Linked DNA regions of Homo sapiens. The protein of the gene in region 1 purifies or fractionates together with the protein of each later gene. This does not show direct contact. Each region holds a gene or a part of one and is shown on either strand. Other genes may lie near its edges.

Evidence for each region. Proteins that work in one complex are often made in the same cells at the same time.
Region 2: the proteins of A2M (region 1) and PRADC1 purify together in Homo sapiens (co-immunoprecipitation; 3 studies listed by BioGRID and IntAct, with this or other methods). This does not show direct contact.

The regions. Positions count from the first base shown.
Region 1 is NC_000012.12:9,104,722-9,110,253, forward strand, and holds part of A2M (alpha-2-macroglobulin isoform a precursor), read right to left. Parts: intron 5,315-5,532; coding exon 5,146-5,314; intron 4,685-5,145; coding exon 4,600-4,684; intron 2,924-4,599; coding exon 2,803-2,923; intron 1,885-2,802; coding exon 1,770-1,884; intron 1,625-1,769; coding exon 1,515-1,624; intron 1-1,514. UniProt on the Homo sapiens protein: Is able to inhibit all four classes of proteinases by a unique 'trapping' mechanism. This protein has a peptide stretch, called the 'bait region' which contains specific cleavage sites for different proteinases.
Region 2 is NC_000002.12:73,227,510-73,230,239, reverse strand, and holds the end of PRADC1 (protease-associated domain-containing protein 1 precursor), read left to right. Parts: intron 1-26; coding exon 27-127; intron 128-669; coding exon 670-779; intron 780-1,277; coding exon 1,278-1,445; intron 1,446-1,665; coding exon 1,666-1,786; 3' UTR 1,787-2,230; downstream 2,231-2,730. UniProt on the Homo sapiens protein: Plays a role in the modulation of physical activity and adiposity.

The sequences.
Region 1 (5,532 bases):
GGAAGTGCTGTGTATTATTATATATAACTCTTAGAGAGTCACAGAGCACTAGAGTAATATGATAATGAAATATTTTAATCTATTAATCTATTAACTAAATTTATTTGTGCCCCAAACACCTATTTTGGAGTGGACCATTAACTTCCTATAGATTAGTGTCTGAAGTCTCATAAGTGCACAAGTAAACAATTGCCAATACATTGTCCTGTGTGTTTCTCCAGTTGCCTTAGACATGGTCTCTGCTTCTCAACCTAGATCTTCAGCCTTTTGGAAGGTAGGCAGATTTTATGACACACTTCCCATGTGAAAAATATAAAATTGAAAAGAGGCACACAGTATTAAATAAGTTGCCAAATCTAATTTACTGCTAATATTGTATTGGCAGTTGAGTAGTCCAGTTCAGATTGTAAAGGTGGCAATTCTTTTTCAGTATAAGCTACAGTTGGTAGCAGGAAGAACAATAGGCTGACCCCCATCAGTACTCATAATTGATTTACAAAATCTAAGTTTGCCAGTGAAATGTTGGCTGCATGTACAAAGACAAGAATAGGCACATAATTCTGATTTTCTTCTAGCTAGAGAGTCTTATGACAAATAGGATATTTAACAGCAATAAAATGTACTTACAAAGTACACTATCTTTCTGAGAAATTTACAAATGAGCTACACTTTCATTTTAGGAAGTTGAATACATTTTGGTGTCATGACATAACCAAGCCTTCTAGAATGTACTCCACTTTGTTGAGTCTATGCCTCTTTTACACCCTTCATAGCTGAAATCCTGTAACATTTACATTAAGAAAATGATACACAGTAAATACACATTGAGGCACATGTAACTGTGATCTCAGACTTCTAGAGTCATAAAGATCCATTTGCACATCTGCTGACAACAGAAAAATTGTAAGAGAAGATTTTTTTGGTAGATAACATGAAAATTCATAATTCAAAAATCTGAGAACCTTAAATAGCAGTGTTTTACCCCATGTTCACTGTTTTAGAAATATACTTGTTATAGAAAAATAGTGTAAATATACTATCCATGAAATAAACATTATTGTAGAATCTTTAATACTTCAAAATAAAAATTAAAACCACCTACCCACCTGTTTCCATACAAAGTTAGTGTTAGCATCGTAATGAAACTGGTCAGCATGAATTTTGAGATTCTTGTGAGAAAATGTCATAAAAACCTGAGACTGCCTGGTAAACCATGAGAAGGAGATTGAGTGACTTGTACAATGCTGTTTCAAAAGAAGGGGGGAAAACTCTACTAATTTTAATAAGGCCTTAGGATAATTACATACATTTCATACACAAATTTACAGAAGAATAAATCTATTTTTATGTAGTTTTATACCTTTGGTTATACTAATCAAGCCTTGGTGATATTTTATACTTTTGGTTATATTAAATGATAACATTAACCAGGCATGGTTTTAGCACAAACCATAACTATTGTGCTAATTAGGTAACAGTACATGGGTTGATGAGTGAACTGGAAAATACTCCACCTGCCCAAAGAAGGGAATTCCCTGTCGAAAGTGTGAGTCCACTTTCACAAATGAGAGTTTGGTTATGGTTCTTGTGATTTCACTGGACTGCCTTCCAGTCAATTCCACCACTGAAAAAAGAGAAAAAAATCTGTTATTTTTGGGAAGAATGATGTCTCTAAAATTCTATCACCTCCCCCCAACTTACAATTCATTATTTGGCTAAGAAAATCAATGCCTGTTGTGTTTTCTCTTATACCCATGTAGTACACAAACCTGTTCCTTCTTCTTGGATCTGGGCCTCAGTGTGAAGTTTCATTTCATACTCCTTCCTCTTCAGCTGGAAGACCTTGGTTTTTACTTGCTGATAGAAGCAGCCATGGCTGTTTAGCTAAGAAGGGAGAAAATAAAATACAAAAATATAATGCATATTATACTAAATAGATCAGTGGTCAGATAACCGGTGTGATTTTTGTGGGGGGACAACATCATGTAGGCATTTTCTATGACGAGGACACAATAAATATTCTCTAGCAACTAAATATTAAATTTCACAACAATATCTCATGTATAATTGACAGATGTATTCCTTGGTATCTGAAATTCCCTAGATATATTGCGATAGAAATGTCTTAAAATTTGAGGAGTAATTTTTTTTGTACAAAGGATGCATAATATTTATACATATTTATGGGGTACACGAGATATTTTGTTACATGCAGAGAATGTGTAATGATCACATCGCGGGATTTAGGGTGCCTACCAACTCAAGTATGTATCATTTCTATGTGTTGGAAATAGTTCAAGTCCTGTCCACTTGCTATTTTGAAATACACAGTACATCTGCTCTTGACCATTAGAACTCCTCATCAAAGTCTGGTTCCTCCTCCATAATATTCAGCTGTGGCTGGGAAGCGGCCTTCTATATGGGGACTGTGTTTGTCAACTCTCTGGCATCTTGGTGGGGCCATGTGATAGGTTCTTGTTCACAGAGAGAGCAGAACTGATGGCCTGGCCAGCTAAGGCAATTAAGAGGTGTATGGTTTTTTCCTTCCTTTGTAGAAGTGAATGCCCATGGAGGCTTTAGATGGCTCAGTGTCTATCGTTCTGAAACACTCACAATGGGCAATTACGAGAAATAAATAATTCCCATTGTGCTAAGTTCATGATTTTTTTTGAAAAATTACAATAGCCAACATGGAATTCTCTTCTAGATTGTTCTCTTCCTGCGTCAGAAAAATGCTGCAACTCACTGCTTTTCAACAATGCCTTTATCGCTATTCTCTAGAAAAAATAGTGTTCAACCTACCTGTCCACTGAATTTCTCACAGAAAGCCTGTGAATCTTCACCGTGGCAGTCGGAAGCGTCACTATACTTTCTGCAAATGCTCACAGTCACATGTCCAGGGACAGGCTTCCCATATGTGTATCTGTCATGAGAACATTCCCAAAGGAATCAGAGCAGACACTGAACCTCCCCATTTTCTAGCTATTTATATCTCCCCTTTAGCTACAGTATATTCCCTGTCTGTACTTCCCTCTGCTCTCTGCTGGGCTCACACAATATTGAAGACAAGAGTCACTAATGGCTCTTATAGAAATCTCCATTGCAACATGCTGAAATTTACATTCTTCTTTTATCATTTCTTTTTTTTCCTCGTTTTTTTTTAGTTTTATCTTAAAAAAGTCTTTCTTATTATAAAACTTAAACCCGTTCTTAAAAGAGAAACAATACCAGCAAGACGAAACAAACAAAACAAAACAGAACAAAAAAAACCCAAACGCCCTCAAGTCTACCTAGGAATACAAACTATTAGTACGATAGTGTCTCTTCTTCCATCATCCTCTCCCCATGTGCAGCCATCTCTATATCGAGTTTCACTTGTTTATTTTATTTTATTTTATTTTATTTTATTTTATTTTATTTTTGAGATGGAGTCTCGCTCTGTCGCCCAGGCTGGAGTGCAGTGGTGCGATCTTGGCTCACTGCAACCTCCACCTCCTGGGTTCATGCCATTCTCCTGCCTCAGCTTCCCAAGTAGCTGGGACTACAGGCGCTGGCCACCATGCCTGGCTAATTTTTTGTATTTTTTAGTAGAGACGGGGTTTCACCATGTTAGCCAGGATGGTCTTGATCTCCTGACCTCGTGATCTGCCCACCTCAGCCTCCCAAAGTGCTGGGATTACAGGCGTGAGCCACCACGCCGGGCCTGTTTACTTTTTTACAAAAGTGGGATTGTGTCGTAAATATGTCATAGACAATTGCTGGGTTTCCAAGTGCATTTGTCTCCTTTCCTATTTGAGAATGTCCTCTGTATGTCTATTTGCAAGATCACACCAGTTATGAGGAACCAGGAACTTGGCCATCACTGTGAGACAGAACTGGAGCAGGGGCCTAGCTGAATAGTAGGTGTATTACATGTGTGATCTTTGGACAGGACTATACCTGCTCTTCCTGCTACTGCTACTGTGTGCCACCATGGATGGGAACATAAGATCCAGGAAACAAGACTTTTCAAGGTTGGAACAGACTGTCTTGAGAAATCACGTTCAGTCTCTTCGTAAAAATGTCAGTGCAGACAGGTATGTAGACCCGCCTTAGGTGGACTAGTGAGTTAGATGAGATTTCAGTTGTATGCCTATCTCTACAAATTCTGAATCTAAGTGATTTTTCCAGTAAGCATGCAAGGTCAGGTAAATGATCTGTTGATGATTGAATTTCCCCTATAGCCATGTGTTAATTATCTCCCTAATATACGTTTGGTTATTTTTGGTTAAGGCAGAACCAATACCCTTCAACACTATCCACCCTTCCCATTTTGTGTGTGTGTGTGTGTGCAGTTTTGTCACTTTCAGAATCAATCCTATTAGCATAACCTCTCTAGAAACAGTTTCTTACCTCATGATAGAATAATACTGATAAGAACGTGAAAGAAAATAAAAATAGAAAAGCAACAGGAGAATAACATTCTACAGATGAGGATGCTGTCAAAGCACTTAAAATTTTTGTGTTGCCACTGCTCCCGGAGAGAGTAGTTAAAATATCCCAAATGGTGAGTCTCTTTTAAATAATCCCCCACAAAAGATTTTTAAAAAATGAACTCACAGGCCACACACTGATACATTCATCTCTTCTTCCAAGATGGTGATTATCTTTGGCACTGTTACTTGTACTTCAAACTTGGGAAGAACTGTTGATTGGTGATAAAGAAGGTTGGTGATTGGTTTTCAACTTTGGGGGAATTCCTATTTTCAGGTTCCCTGTAACAGTTCCCTAATAATATTTTAGGGCTCTGAAAAGGTAGCTCTGCTCTCCAATCTATTCTTATCTATCCTCCTCTCAAATGAAGATTTCAGTTGAGGGACTATGAGAGATCACTGTGTGCTTAATTAATTATGGAAAACTCCATTAAAACAAGAATGTTTTAATTTTGGGGGTTGGTATTAAATATTGCTACAGAAAATAACGAAGCTATGTGAAGTCCTATTCACAGATCACTGATGTCCTCATTGGACTTAGGTGTAATTAATTCTACTCCAAGCCCAATGTCACCCATGGGAAATGGAAAGACTCCAAATGAACTTAAATTCCAGGACCTAAGAGTTTAAATATGAAGAAAAATAATGCTTGATGACTTTTCATGATCCATACCAAATTCCTCCACGGTGAAAGGGTGCTCTGTCCTTCCACCTGATTTCTTCTGTACCACCACCTTGTAGGAGCCCTGGAAGGGCTCTGATGAGAGGGGAAAAGAAAATTGCTTGAGGCCACCCTCTAACTGGAAACTCTGCCATTGTGCGATGCGATTTCCTTTGGGATCCTATATGAGTAAATTAATTATAACTTACAAAAGCACCTGGAGCATTGGAGCTAATAAAAGATATCTATGGAAACCCTAAGTTATCTACAAAAAGGTCAAATGGGGTAGTAGTAAAGGGTGAGTAGAGGAGATGAGTTATAGCCATCTAGCTCTATGGGAGTTTGAAGGCTTCTCCTTTAATGACAAGTTTCTGAGATATTGTAAAAACCTCTGAAATA
Region 2 (2,730 bases), on another chromosome or scaffold:
TCTTACCTGTACTCTTTATCCTTCAGGCTTCCGTATCCATGATTATTTGTACTTTCAAGTGCTGAGTCCTGGGGACATTCGATACATCTTCACAGCCACACCTGCCAAGGACTTTGGTGGTATCTTTGTAAGTTAAGGGAGGCCCCTGATCTCTGATCCTCAACCTCCCCCTTCCCCTCACTGAGCTGCAGTGACCCTCTCATCCCACCTGAGTGCTGGGACAGGGAAGGGAGCAGAATCAGCTCTGCCTTCCATGAGCTGCAGCACAGAAAGGAAGCTCTTCCAGCTACTCCCCTGAGTATAATATAAACCTAGGCACCATGGAGGGACAAGTTGTCTTTTTAGGGGACATGAAGTGAAAAGCCAAGAGCACCAGCTTCCTCTGCCAGCTCTACCTGTGAACTATGTGACTTAAGGCACATCACTTCCTCTCTCTGGATCTACAACCAAGTCCCCTGCCTATCTCATAGAAGGGTAGGGTGGTGTAGGACAACCAGATAGGCCTTTGCGAGAATTAAGTAAAAATGTTTAAGTGTCTGGCGATACAGAAACCACTCCATGTTTCCTTCACACTTTATAAGGTGCCAATAAGATGGGATTGTCAGCCCAGTCCTAAAGCAGGTGTGTCTCATTACACTCTCACCTGTCCAAATGTTAAATGTTTTTCAGCACACAAGGTATGAGCAGATTCACCTTGTCCCCGCTGAACCTCCAGAGGCCTGCGGGGAACTCAGCAACGGTTTCTTCATCCAGGACCAGATTGCTCTGGTGGAGAGGGGGTAAGGAGTGGGCAGGCAGGACACGAGGAGTGGGCAGGCATACGGCAGATTCTGAGATTATTGGTAGTAGTGCTTTGAAAGAGCTGTTTTTGAAAATTTCATCTTTTTAAGCGTCTTTAAGAAATGTCTAGCCTGGGCAACATGGAGAAACCCTGTCTGTACAAAAAATACAAAAATTAGCTGGGCATGGTGGTGCACACCTGTGGTCCCAGCTACTCGAGGCTGAGGTGAGAGGATTGCTTGACCGCATGTTAAGGCTGCAGTGAGCCGAGATCACGTCACTGCACTCCAGCCTGGGCAACAGAGCAAAACCCAGTCTCCAAAAAAAAAGAAAAAGGAAAAAGAAATGTATTTAAATTATCCATGCTTTTAGCTATTTACTTATGAGCCTTTATAACAGATTCTTCATAGTCTGCCTTCTATACTCCCAGGGTGATGGTCTGGGGAAGGGGGAGCTAGGACCTGTCTTTCCTTTGGTCTTATCACCACCTCTTCCAGGGGCTGCTCCTTCCTCTCCAAGACTCGGGTGGTCCAGGAGCACGGCGGGCGGGCGGTGATCATCTCTGACAACGCAGTTGACAATGACAGCTTCTACGTGGAGATGATCCAGGACAGTACCCAGCGCACAGCTGACATCCCCGCCCTCTTCCTGCTCGGCCGAGACGGGTGAGGGCTCCTTGCCTCTGGCTTTATCAGCACCAGGCTGGGCGCCATGACTGGGTCAGGGGTAATCACCAGTCCCTTCTTGCAGGCCTCAACTTGGGGTGCTTCAGTTAGAGGGCAAAAAAAGATCTCGGGCTTTGGAACTCCCAGATTGATGGGGACAGTGGGGCATGATGGGGTACCAAGAAAGTGACCGTCACCACCTCTCTTCATGCCCTCCCAGCTACATGATCCGCCGCTCTCTGGAACAGCATGGGCTGCCATGGGCCATCATTTCCATCCCAGTCAATGTCACCAGCATCCCCACCTTTGAGCTGCTGCAACCGCCCTGGACCTTCTGGTAGAAGAGTTTGTCCCACATTCCAGCCATAAGTGACTCTGAGCTGGGAAGGGGAAACCCAGGAATTTTGCTACTTGGAATTTGGAGATAGCATCTGGGGACAAGTGGAGCCAGGTAGAGGAAAAGGGTTTGGGCGTTGCTAGGCTGAAAGGGAAGCCACACCACTGGCCTTCCCTTCCCCAGGGCCCCCAAGGGTGTCTCATGCTACAAGAAGAGGCAAGAGACAGGCCCCAGGGCTTCTGGCTAGAACCCGAAACAAAAGGAGCTGAAGGCAGGTGGCCTGAGAGCCATCTGTGACCTGTCACACTCACCTGGCTCCAGCCTCCCCTACCCAGGGTCTCTGCACAGTGACCTTCACAGCAGTTGTTGGAGTGGTTTAAAGAGCTGGTGTTTGGGGACTCAATAAACCCTCACTGACTTTTTAGCAATAAAGCTTCTCATCAGGGTTGCAACTGTGTCCTAGAATAAGAGCACACGGGTGGGCAGGACCTTCAAACTCACTCGTATCGTCCCATACTGTCGTTCTGAGGAAAGGAAACACCCACAGAGGACAGTGACTGGCCTAGGTCATTTGGGACCAGTGCTCAGACTGCTAGTCTTAGATCCCAGCACAGCTTCCTGCTAGGAGCCAAGGAAGCCCTGGGAAGCCAGAGTTCAGCCCCTCAGGAGAAGACTCATCTTAGAGCCTGGAACTGGGGGTCCAAACTGGACCTCAGGGCTAGGCATGGTGGCCCATGCCTGTAATCCCAGCACTTTGGGAGGCCGAGGTGGGAGGATCAGTTGAGGCCAAGAATTCAAGACCAGCCTTGGCAACAACATAGCAAGATCCCATCTCTACAGAAAAATTAAAAATTAGCTGGGTGTGGTGGTGTGAGCCTATAGTCCCAGCTACTCAGGAGGCGGAGGTGGGAGGATCACTTGGGCCCAGAAGTTCAAGGCTGTAGTGAG